Linked DNA regions of Homo sapiens: regions 1 and 3 are each linked to region 2. The links come from fine-mapping of genetic effects on gene expression. A gene starts in region 2. Each other region holds a variant in brackets. All regions are shown on one strand. Distances are between the middles of the regions. Region 1 has its middle 7.7 kb from the start of ZNF541. Region 2 holds the start of NAPA-AS1 (NAPA antisense RNA 1). Region 3 overlaps NAPA (NSF attachment protein alpha).

Region 1 (4,213 bases), 97 kb after region 2:
AAAAAAGAAAAAATCTCAACAAAGATTGGAATTTAGTTAATAGTAATGTATCCACTTTTTGGGGTTTTTTTTTTTTTTTGAGACAGAGTCTCGCTCTGTCGCCCAGGCTGGAGTGCAGTGGCGCAATCTCAGCTTGCTGTAAGCTCCGCCTCCCGGGTTCACGCCATTCTCCTGCCTCAGCCTCCCGAGTAGCTGGGACTACAGGCGCCCGACACCACGCCCAGCTAATTTTTGTATTTTTAGTAGATGGGGTTTCACCGTGTTAGTCAAGATGGTCTCGATCTCCTGACCTCGTGATCTGCCGGCCTCGGCCTCCCAAATGCTGGGATTACAGGCGTGAGCCACCACGCCCAGCCTTTTTTTTTTTTGAGATGGAGTCTGGCTCTGTCTCCCAGGCTGCAGTGCAATAGCATGATCTTGACTCACTGCAACCACCGCCTCCCAGGTTCTGCCTCAGCCTCCAGAGTAGCTGGGATTACAGGCGCCCGTCACCACACCCAACTAATTTTTATACTTTTAGTAGAGACGGAGTTTCACCATGTTGGCCAGGGTGGTCTAGAACTCATCCTGACCTCAGGTGATCCGCCCGCCTCAGCCTCCCAAAGTGCTGAAATTACAGGCATGAACCATTGCACCCCGCCTGTTTTGTGTGTGTGTGTTTTTTTTTTTTTTTTTTTTGAGACAGGGTCTCATTCTGTCGCCCAGGCTGCAGTGCAGTGGTGCCATCTGGGCTCACTGCAATCTCCGCCTCCCAGGTTCAAGCCATTCTCCTGCCTCACCCTCCTGAGTAGCTGGGACTACAGAAGTGCACCACCATGCCTGGCTTATACATTTTTTATTTTTTGGTAGTGACGGGGTTTCACTGTGTTAGCCAGGCTGGTCTCAAACTCCTGGCCTCAGGTGAGCCGCCTGCCTCGGCCTTCCAAAGTATGAGGATTTTAGGCATGAGCCACCGAGCCTGGCCAATGTTTTTGTAGTTTTGACAAATGTATAGTTGTGTCACTTAACAACGGAGATCTGTCTGAGAGATGTATCTTCAGGTGATTTTTTCCTTGTTGCGTGAACGTCGTAAGCTGTACAAACCCAGATGGTATAGCCTAGCACACAGCTAGGCTGTATGGTGTAGCCTATTGTTCCTAGGCTACAAACATGCAGCATGCAACTGTACTGAATACTGTAGGCAGCTGAAACACAAAGGTAAGTATTTGTGCATCAAAACATAGAAAGGTACAGTAGACCAGGCGTGGTGGCTCATGCCTGTAATCCCAGCACTTTGGAGGCCGAGGCAGGTGGATCACCTGAGGTCAGGAGTTCGACACCAGCCTGGACAACATGGTAAAACCCCATCTCTACTTAAAATACAAAAATTAGCCAGGTGTGGTGGCAGGCACCTGTAATCCCAGCTACTTGGGAGGCTGAGGCAGGAGAATCACTTGAACCTGGGAGGCGGAGGCTGCAGTGAGCCGAGACCTCGCCACTGTACTCCAGCCTAGGCGATAGAGCGAGAGTCCATCTCAAACAAAAAAGAAAAGAAAAGAAAAGAAAAAAGAAAAGGTACAGTAAAAATACAGTATTATAATCTTACAGGACCTCTGTCATATGTGTAGTTCTTATTGGCCAAAACGTTGTTATGTGGCACATGACTGTCCTGTGATAAAGTAAGATGCCAACATCAGGGAAAGGGTGAGGGGGATGTGGTAACTCTTTGTACCATCTTTCCAAGTTTCCAGTAAATTTAAAATTACTCCAAAATAAAAAGTTTAGGGTGAAAAAAGAAGGAAAGGAAATGAAAATGTCCACCTATAGGAGACTGGATAAATCGTGGTATAGTTATTCAATGGAGTATTATGCAGCAGTGAAAATGAGTCAATTTCCATTACACACAGCAACACAGATGTGCTCCCATTTACATATAACATTTCAACAGGGTGTGGTGAATCGTGTCTGTAATCCCAGCACTTTGGGAGGCCGAGCCAGGAGGCATCACTTGAGGCCAGGAGTTCAAGACCAGCCTGGACCACATGGCAAGAAAAATTAAAAATAAACTGGGCATGGTGGCGTGATCTGCCTGTAGTTCCAGCTTCTCAGGAGGCAGAGGTGAGAGGAACACTTGAGCCCTGGAGGTCGAGGTTGCAGTGAGCCATGATCCCACCGCTGCACTCCAGCCTGGGCAACACAGTGAGACTCTGTCTCAAAAATAAATATCATTTCAAAACACAGGCAAAGCTAAACAATAAGCAGTTTAGGGACATAGATAGAATTATTATTTTTTTTAAAGTAAGGGAGCCAGGCATGGTGGCACACACCTGTGGTCCCAGATACTCGGGAGGCTGAGGCAGGAGGATCACTTGGGACCAGGAGTTCTGGGCTGTAGTACACTATGCCAATGCAGGGTCCACGCTAAGTTTGGCATCAGTTTGGTGGCCTCCTGAGAGCGGGGGATCACCAGGTTGCCTAAGGAGGGGTGAACTGGCCCATGTTGGAAATGGAGCAGGTCAAAACTCCTGTGTTAATCACTGGTGGGATCATGCCTGTGCATAGCCACTGCACTCCATCCTGGGCAACATAGCAAGACCCTATCTCTTAAAAAAAGAAAAAACTAGCCAGATGTGGTGGCATGTGCCTATAGTCCCAGCTACTCAGGAGGCTGAGGTGGGAGGAT[C/T]GCATGAGCCCAGGAGTCCGAGGTTGCAGTGAACTATGATTGTACCACTGGACTCCAGCCTGGTCTACAAAATGTGACCTTATCTCTCATAAACAAAACAAAACAAAATAAAATGGAAGCCCCTGAGAAGCTAAGGGAAAAGATGCTCTTCAGAAGGAGAGGGGTACACCCTGGCCGCAGGTTCCTCTTCTCTGCCAACCTTTTCCTGTTGTCTCCATCTATTCACTTTGTTCAGCATTGCTTTCTGTGATTTGTCTTTTGAATCACGTCCTTCAAGCATTCTCACACTCCTCACTCCTCTCGGCCTCTAAAGGACTCACCTGGCCAAACTCCAGCCATCCTCTTCTCTGTGCCAGCCGAGCCCAGCAGAAGGAAACCACCCAGCCAGCCCAACGGGTTTTACCTGAATCAGAGAAATCACAGGCCTCAGACAGGCGCAGGGCACTCTCTATGTGTCTCTGGTGTGCTTACATTTCCCCCCTGCCCTCCAGCCCATGACTAGGTCCCACACTTCCCTGTGCACATAGAAGCCATCAGAAGGGAACCCCCTTGTCATCTGTCCCTGTGATTCCCTCTCTCAAGGATTGGGGTCTCCCTCCCTCCTTCCTTCCTTCCTTCTTTCCTTCCTTCCTTCCTTCCTTCCCTGCCTCCCGCCCTTCCTTCCTTCCTTCTCTCCCTCCCTCCCTGCCTTCCTTCCTTCCTTCTTCCCTTCCACCTCCCTCCTTCTCTCCCTCTTTCCTCTTCCATTGAAGTTTCTCCTCCTCTCCTCCTCCTCCCCCCTCCTCCTCTTCCTCCTCCTTTTCCTCCTCCCCTCCTCCTCCTCTTCCTCTGCCTGTCCTCCTCCTCCCCTCCTCTTCATCCTCCCCTTGTCCTCCTCCTCTTCCTTTCCCCCTCCTCCTCCTCTTCCTTCCCCCTCCTCCTCCCCTCCTCCTTCCCTCCTCTTCCTCTCCTCCTCCTCTTCCTCCTGCCCTCCCCCCTCTTTCTCCTCCCTCCTCTTCATTTCCTCCTCTTCTCCTCTTTCTCTTCCTGTCTCCTATATCATTCATCATCTCTCTCTCCTTCTGCCAAATCATGCCCATCACTATCCTCAAATGCTCCTGCCTCTTCCATTCATTTTTTAAAAAGAATTCCTCCCTTGAGGGAACCGAGAGATAAGAGAGACTGTAGCCACAAATCAACCACATGCAACCCAAGGACTTTGGATGCTGAGTCGAACAGACCAATGTTTTGTTTCGTTTTGTTTTTAAATTATCAGACAAGTAGAGAAATCTGAACTCTGACTGCCTATTCGATGATAGGAAAGAATTATGGTGCATTTTTTAGATGGATCACGGGATTGTGGTTATATTTCTATAAACAAACCTTATCTCCAGAGATATGAAATGAATAATCTGTACATGAAATGATGTGATGTCTGGGATGTGTTTTAAAACTATCTAGTGGGGTGAGGGTGGGGCCAATGAGAGACGGTAGAAATGAAACAGCATTGGCCATGAGTTGATAATTGGTGAGGCCCAGTGACCGGCATGTGGAGTTAATCATACTCTTTTA
Region 2 (4,176 bases):
ATGTCAGGACTTTATCATTACAGAACCTCAGAAGATTCTGGCTTCTATCGTACTGTAGAATATTCAAATGTTGGAATCTTAGAGCCTACGACTCTAGAAAACTTAGCATCTCTGATCTTGGAATGTCAGACTCTAGAACATTAGAATCTGGGAATTCTAGATGTGCAGAATTCCCAGAATTCACAGGTGCTCCATCAACTCTCTCAGATTATCTAGTTCAGGAATGGCAGTGTGGTGGCCCCTTGGCCATCCGGTCCATGGCCACCTTAAAAGCATGATGCTCCGGCCAGGCGTGGTGGCTCACGCCTGTAATCCCAGCACTTTGGGAGGCCAAGGCGGGCGGATCACCTGAGGTCAGGAGTTCGAGACTAGCCTGGCCAACATGGCAAAAACCTATCTATACTAAAAATACAAAAATTAGCCGGGCATGGTGGTGTGAGCCTGTAATCCTAGCTACTCAGGAGGCTGAGGCAGTAGAATCACTTGAACCAGGGAGGTAGAGGTTGCAGAGATCGAGCCACTGCACTCCAGCCTGGCAACAGAGCGAGCATCTATCTCAAAAAAAAAAAAAAAGAAAGAAAAAAAAAGTGCAATGCTTTAAAAAACAAATGTAGAATCTGATTGTCTATGGACAAGTTCGTGGTCTCCAGTTAGCTACAGCTTTCCAACCTCAGCTGCATATGTGTGTGTGCACATGTGCTCCCTGTTATATTACATTTGTGCTTTCCATTCTCACATGACCTCTCTGGTCCCCAAAGGCATTTTAGTTTAATTTCATTTTATTTTATTTATTTATTTTTGAGACAGAGTTTCGCTCTTGTCACCCAGGTTGGAGTGCTGTGGTGCAATCTTGGCTCACTGCAACCTCCGCCTCCCGGGTTCAAGTGATTCTCCTGCCTCAGCCTCCTGAGTAGGCTGGGATTACAGGCACACACCACCATGCCCAGCTAATTTTTGTATTTTTAGTAGAGACGGGGTTTCGCCATGTTGGCCAGGCTGGTCTCAAACTCCTGACCTCAGGTGATCCGTCTGCCTCAGCCTCTCAAAGTGCTGGGATTACAGGTGTGAGCCACCGTGCCCGGCTGGCATTTTAGTTTTCAATCCCTAATCTAGTACAACCTCTTTATTTTCCAGAAGGGGAAACAGACTACAGGGGTCTGTAAGTAAAGAAGGGGTTCGAGAAGCCAGGGTTTCTACATTTACAGTGGAGTGGGCGTCGATGCGCAGGGGACACTCACTCCGCATGGCACAGCTGGAACGGAGTGAACTGGAGCTCCAGGTTCAGGCAGCTCTCTGTAGGCAGGGCACAGGCAGGTTAGCATGGGGGACCTGCTGGGGACTCTCTCCCTCCTCCCGTCCACGCCTCACTCACGGGCAATAGAGTCAAGGTTGTACTCAGAGCCGGGCTCGTAGTCGCAGTAAATGTTCAGGAAGGGGCTGCCCTTGTCCCCTGAATCCTGGCGGAGGACACGGGGTTCAGGGGAGGGCAGGGGTGGCAGGAGGGATCCGGGGCGGCTCAGTGGAACTCACCATGTGTGTAAGGAGGAGGGCGAAGGGAGGTGGAGGGGGCTCTAGGTACCTTGATGAACGTGATCCCCACAACCAGACCCCGCTTGGGGGGTGACTTGTTGAAAGTGTCGATGGAGACAATCTCCGCATCCACTGGGAGGGGAGAGTTCTAAGTTCAGTGTCAGGCAGACTCATGCTTCCAATCTCCCCAACATGGTGAGCTCTGGCTACCGCAATGATCATGCCCTCTGGTCTGAGTCCTGACCACCATCACCTGATCTCTGTTCCCTGGGTACTAGGGATCCTGACCTGTAAGTCTGAAGAATCCTGAAACCCTAGGCTCATCCGGGCCCCAACTATGCCTGCCCGCTGATCCCAGTGACCCCCTTAAAACCACCTGATCCCATTCTTCCAGCACGGTGACCCGGCTCAGACAGAGCCTCAGAAGCCTTCTCAACACCACGTTCCAGGCCCCCGCCCCCCAGCACCATAGCGCCACCCACCGGGAATGTAGTTGAACTGCAGCTCCTTGGCCACTGGCCGGATTTTCTGTCGGAGGTCTTGGTAGCGGAAGCCGAGCACCTTGCCTTTAAGGGTGGCGGCCAGCAGCTCCCCGCGCCCGCCGGCGCCGCCTGCCAGCCCGTACACATTGCTCTGCGACGAGAAGCGCGTGAAGCTGTCCTCGCGCAACGGACAAGGCCCCGCGGCCACGGCCGCCTCCCCCATCATGCCCCTCAGTTAAGCACCCTCTCCGCAGCCCCCGCCCCAACCCGCACTACCCAACCTACGACTCTCTAAGCGACCTGAACCGCCGGGTGCCCGGCCGTTGCGCGGGCTGATGACGTACGGAAGCTGCCGGCGTTGCCCTCTCCCAAGATGGCGGCCAGGTCGCCTGCTCGGGCCTCCCAGGCGACTTTGCCCCACTGCGCCCGCGCTCTCTTCTCCTTTCCATTTCTGGACCAAGGGGCTGCCATAAGGAGTCTGTGACTAGAGATGGGAGGTGGTGGCCACGGCCTCTCGCTGTATGCTGTGTGGAAGGTCGAATCATCATCATCATAAAACTTAATATTGCCCTTATGTGCCAGGAACTACTGTAAGTGCATTCCATCTAATACTTTATTAAAAATTCGCAAGGGGGTGGAGGTAGGTACTTAAATCCATTTTAGAGATGAAGGAATTGAGGCACAGAGGGGTAAAGTAACTTGCCTAAGATCACACAGCTAGTAACGAGCGGTCAGTACTGGAAACCAAACAAGGTAACTCCACAGTTCACTATTTTTTTTTTTTTTTTTTTTGAGACGGAGTCTTGCTCTGTCACCCTGGAGTGCAGTGGTGCGATCTCGGCTCACTGCAACCTCTGCCTCCTGGGTTCAAGCGATTCTCCTGCCTCAGCCTCCCAGCAGCTGGGATTACAGGCGCCACCACACCTGGCTAGTTTTTCTATTTTTAGTAGAGATGGGGTTTCGCCATGTTGCCCAGGCTGGTCTGGACCTCCTGACCTCAGGTGATCCGCCCACCTCGGCCTCCCAAAGTGCTAGGATTATAGGCGTGAGCCCCCTTGCCCGGCCTATAGTTCATAATCTTAACAGTATCACCTTTAAAATAATTAATACATTCTTCTTGCCCCCAAGGAAAAATGATCCAGCTATAATAACCACCTCCTTTATCGAACACCTACTTGGTGACAGTCATGCTGGCTCTGATAATCTGATTCCTTACAACTGTTCTGCAAGGGCCTACTGTTACCCTCCCTGCCGGTTCACTTATTCAGGATTCATTGAGCTTTTACTATGTGCCCGGACGTCCTTTGCAAATCTGTCTCACTAATCTTTGCAAGAAAGAAACCTCTACAAAGAGGTTTATTATCCCAGTTTAGAGAGAATCAAATGGAGGCTCAGAAAGAGTAAGTCCACTGACTGATATGCTAGCAAGTGGTGGGGACAGGATGTAAACCAGGTGTTTCCGACTCTGGGGCCTTCAGGGGTTCCTGTCTGTGCTGCTTTGTCCCTAGAAGGCCATGGAGGTTTGGGTACTATGTGCACATCTGTGTATCATTTCCAGAAGACATGGGTTGGCCAGCTGTCCTGGACACCTCGAGCACACACAGACTGCAAGCTCCATGAAGGCAGCAGGCTGATCTCCCTTGATCACGGCCTTATCGCCTGTACCTGGAACACAAGGCCTGACACAAAGCAGGCATTCAGAAAATATGTGTCAAAAATCACAAACTATGTGCTGAGCATGTAAGAGACAGCTCTTACATGATGGAAAGTTCTCAAAGGCAGACTGGATAACGGAGGTGGCAAGGAATTTGTGATGATTCCAGATTTCTGGATGTGGAGAGTAGAAGTTCCTGGAGGGCAGTCTGGGAATGCCGTCAGTGCTGCTGTATTCCCAGGGCCTGGCATGCAGCAGGTGCTTAGTGAATATTCGCTGAGGGAGTGGCACGTGGGTCTAGTGCCACTTCAGCAGTGCGTTTCCTTCAGGCGTCTTCCCGCCCTAGTAACCTATAAGCCACATGTTGAGCGGATGAATGAAAAAATGAAGTTACAGGTTAGGAAGGAATCATCCTGTTAAGAGGTTTCCAATCCTAGCTGCACACTTGAACTGCCTATGAAGTTTTAACAAAACAAACCAAAACAGGCCGGGCCTGGTGGCTCATGCCTG
Region 3 (4,213 bases), 21 kb after region 2:
GGGCAGGTTAAACACTCAGGCTCTGCAGTCAGAGCCTTGGTTTCTGAATCTTGGTTCTGTCACTTACTAGTTCTGGCATCCTGGGCAAGAGACTAAGCCAAGCCTCAGTTTCCAAATCTGTAAAATAGGGATATTTATAGACTGACCCTTAGGGCTGCTGTGCTAACGCAATTAAATGATGAGCACTTAGGACTCAACAAACAGCAGCCATGATTCACGTTGTTATTGGAATCACCTGAACATCCTCCCCCAGCCTAGAATTTAGACACTGATGGAAGCACTAAGGAAGTTACCAGGAAACCTGAAGTTCTGAATTTAAGGAGGACTCTAAGAGCTCATCAATCCACATGGGTTTATCTAGGTCTAATAATCTATTTATTCCCATCCTCTCTGTCCTTTCACCAAGGCCCCATGACCCAGAGTATAAAGTAACCCAGCAGGCACAAAACAAGAGAGCAGGCCAGTGGCTTTCCGATGCCGGAGAGGGCATACAAAGAGAAAGGGCCCTCAAGGCCAACCTCTCGGGCAGGCCTGTGTGAGTGGAAGCTGAGGGAGGAGGAGAGCACCTTGGAGGAGCTCTAGCGGAGATGACATACCACTCCAGTTTTTGGCCATTTTGAACATGTTTGCTGCTCTGGCGTAGATTTCGCATGCTTCCTCTATTTTGGATGAGCCTCTGGGGAAAAAGGAAAGAAAAAAAGGAGACAATCTAGTCGGCTATCCAGGAGAAAGCAAGCATTCTGCTCCAGTGCCGGGCACAGACGTGCCCCTACCCCTCACCCTTCACCTGTGAAGCCAGCTTCCCCCAGGCCTCTTGAGTCTGTGGCCCCCGCCCCTGCATACAATGGCACACTCACTTCGGGCAGACCAGCTCCCTCCGGGAGTACTGGGGTAGATACTGGGTGCTTGCTGGGGTAGTGGGGCGAAGAGTTCCTGACCCCACCACAACCCCAGGGTCTGACAGCCTCTTCTACTTCCTGCCTGGGATACTAGGGGCCCACTGGGTCCCAGGCGCGCTACAAATCCCCTTTCCCCGGGAGACTGCAAAGCATTCTGGGGGACTAGCCCAGTTTAAGACATCGTGTTGCTTTCGCAGAGGCAGCCTTAATCCTGTGCCTTGCACTCTGTGGTTGCTCAATAAAGACCTTGCAGCCCTGGAGTGTGTCATTACCAGCTCAGGACTGGGCATATATATCACACAGCCATACAAAGAAATGGGAAGCACTATTTTAAAGTGTAGATATAAGATGTTCCCATTTGTGTTTAAAAAAAAAAGAGGGTGGGCTGGGTGTGGTGGTTCATGGCTCCTGTAATCCCAACACTTTGGGAGGCCAAGGTTGGCGGATTGCTTGAGCTCAAGAGTTCGAGACCAGCCTGGGCCACACGGCAAAACCCCAACTCTACAAAAAATACAAAAAATTAGCAGGGTGTGATGGTGCACGCCTGTAGTCCTAGCTACTAGAGAGGCTGATGTGGGAGGATCACTTGAGCCTGGGAGGCAGAGGTTGCAGTAAGCCAAGATCACACCATTGAACTCCAGCCTGGACGACGACAGAGCCAGACCTTGTCTCAAAAAAAAAAAAAAAAAAAAAAAGAGAAAGAGAGTGAAAATAATAGAAACATACATGTTTATATAAACATAGGATATTTCTGGGCAAATACACAAAAACCTAGTAACAGCATTTTTCTCTTAAGGTGAAGCCTGCAGAAGGAGGGCCAGGTGTGGGAGGCAGACTTATTCACTGGACATCCCGTATTTGTACTGTCTGAATTTTTTTTTAACTGTTTGTACATCTTTTCGAGAAAAAAAATATATACATATATACACACACGTGTACATATATACACATGTGTATATATGTGTATGTGTATATATGTGTGTATATATCTATACATTTACACATACACAGACACACACACACACATATTTTTAAGTATTAGGATTTATATTTGGCCCTGTGGTCCAGCAATGAATTACATCTCTAGCAATTTATCCTAAAAAAACTAATCAGAAAAGTTACAAGGATGTTCAGCATAGCATTATTTAAAACAGCAAAACCCCCCAAAAACTTATTGTCCAACAGTAGGGATACACTGGGAGATAGACAGGAATTTGAAAACATAAAGGGTACCCTGTTTGGGCAGCTTCACTCTGGCTTCTTGACCTCCACATGTACATAATGAGCCTCCTCTTGACTTGGGGGACCTCATTAGTACCTCAAACCCGTAAGTCCCACTGCATTCTTCTGCCCTTAATAATACAACCAGGCTTAGCCCGCGAGGTCTGTAGTCTCTGTAACTGCTCAAACTCCCAATATC[T/C]ACATAATCAGTAGAATAAAATCCACACACTCTGGAGTCCCACCAAATGGATTTCAGGGCCTCTCTTCACTGGCATAACTAGTGTTTAGTTTATTTTTAAGGAAGAGAAAAGGGAGGAGTGGGTACTTTCCCATTCAAATCATCCTCACCATCCCATCCCACACCCTGTGTCAACTGGCCCAACATTATACCTGGGAACTTGTCCACACCAACCCCAGCTGTGGAGGGGCTCAAAGGTAATTTTGGGAGCTGGGATGTGAGCATTCCTTCCCTCTGCACTGCGGATTCAGTGTGTCCAACCTGCCCATCCCTTTCAGCCACATGAAGTGCTCATTTCATCAAACCAGAGTCCCACAGCCACACACTTTGGGATTCGCTCAGTAGGGTCTGGATGGGGCCTGCAAATGAGATTTTTAACAATTGGGGTTTGGGGGGCCCAGGTAATTCAGCTGATCAGGTGAGTTTGAGAAGGAAAAATTGACTGAGACCGACTACCTGGAAAGCAGCCACCAGCGATCAGATCAGCGGCCAGGCCTGGCAATGTCAGCAGGCAAATAAATGCCCCCACGGTGGGCGGGCTGGTTGGGCCAGGGATCCTGGCCTCCTGAATCCACATCACACCAGGTAAATAATCTATTTATTCCTATCCTCTCTGTCATCTTGCCAGATGAAAAGCCTACCCTCTGCCTTCTGGGGCTGTGCTGATGCTGTCCCCCACCCTCTGCTGTCCCTGGGAAGTGGCCCTGAGCAATGTGTTCTTCCCGCACTCGCCCTGCTGCACTCTGTCTTCCCTCACCCACCTCACCTCAGCCAGCCCAACACACCTTGGGCCTTGTTTGGAGTGACTTCTTTTTTTTTTTTTTTTTTTTGAGATGGAGTTTCGCTCTTGTCGCCCAGGCTGGAGTACAGTGGCACGATCTCAGCTTACTGCAACCTCCAACTCCCGGGTTCAAGCAATTCTCCTGCCTCAGCCTCCTGAGTAGCTGGGATTACAGATGTGTGCCATCACACCCTACTAATTTTTGTATTATTAGTAGAGACAGGGTTTCACCACGTTGGCCAGGCTGGTCTCGAACTCCTGACCTCAAGTGGTCCACTCGCCTCGGCCTCCCAAAGTGCTGGGATTACAGGCATGAGCCACCGTGCCCAGCCTGGAATGACTTCTTTAGAACCCATTCCTGGCCTTGGAGAGGTAAGAAACTTTCAAAACCTTCTGGCTGAGAATCCTGAAGGGTCCTTTGGGGCCTGGCTGCAAAAAACCCTCAGAAGGACCTTCTCTGGAATGTTCTCTTAAAGGGACATTTTCAGACCTTAATCACAGGTCTGCCCACCCCACAGGTCCCCCAGCTCAGCCTTCCCTTCTTTTTGAGTGTGACTAAGTCCTATCCAGCTCCATGCACTCTCTGAAAAAGCACAGACCCTGGATGGGCAGAAATGACCCACGTCACTGAGTGGCCCACAGCGGGCAATCAACAATGAGCAGAGTCAGCCCAGCCGGGTTTATTTCAGGACGGACACAAAGCCTACCAGCTGCCCGGGCTGAAACTCTGTGATCCCAGGCTAAGCACAGCCAACCCTGCACGGGGTCAATGATTCTGTGGGGTGGAAAGGCCAGAGGGATTAACACCTGCTCAGGCCCCAGGCTTGCCTCCTTCTTCCCCTGCACCCCGCGGTCTTGCCCATTACCATGGCCAGGGGATGACAGGAGATCTCCAGGGTCCCATCCTCTTCTTTTAGAAATGGGAGTGAAGTCCCCAAAGGGGGAAAGTGACGTGCCTAGGTTCCAGTGGAAGATCCTGAAGAAGCCATTCACATACACATTTATTCACCTGGGGAACAGGTATCCGAGCATTTATTACGTGCCAGGAGATAACAACAGTACACGAAAGGAAAA

The links. PIP is the estimated chance that this variant, and not a neighbour inherited with it, causes the effect.
Region 1: its variant is fine-mapped to the expression of NAPA-AS1 in cerebellar hemisphere (GTEx, PIP 0.94).
Region 3: its variant is fine-mapped to the expression of NAPA-AS1 in cerebellum (GTEx, PIP above 0.99).

The regions. Positions count from the first base shown.
Region 1 is chr19:47,578,738-47,582,950 of GRCh38, forward strand. It overlaps the pseudogene RN7SL322P. Among named protein-coding and RNA genes, the nearest start is that of ZNF541, 7.7 kb to the left of the region's middle. The variant C/T (reference allele first, on the strand shown) is at 2,663.
Region 2 is chr19:47,481,923-47,486,098 of GRCh38, forward strand. It overlaps NAPA-AS1 (NAPA antisense RNA 1), which reads left to right and starts at 2,360. Exons shown (of 4, transcript NR_038452.1): 1 at 2,360-2,602. KPTN (kaptin, actin binding protein) reads right to left here and starts at 2,297. Exons shown (of 12, transcript NM_007059.4): 1 at 2,013-2,297; 2 at 1,580-1,662; 3 at 1,373-1,457; 4 at 1,239-1,293. The coding sequence starts at 2,238. It also overlaps a transcript of NAPA not described here. RefSeq lists enhancers at 2,222-2,511, 2,542-2,671.
Region 3 is chr19:47,502,827-47,507,039 of GRCh38, forward strand. NAPA (NSF attachment protein alpha) reads right to left here. Exons shown (of 11, transcript NM_003827.4): 2 at 597-676. Among named protein-coding and RNA genes, the nearest start is that of NAPA, 10 kb to the right of the region's middle. The variant T/C (reference allele first, on the strand shown) is at 2,320.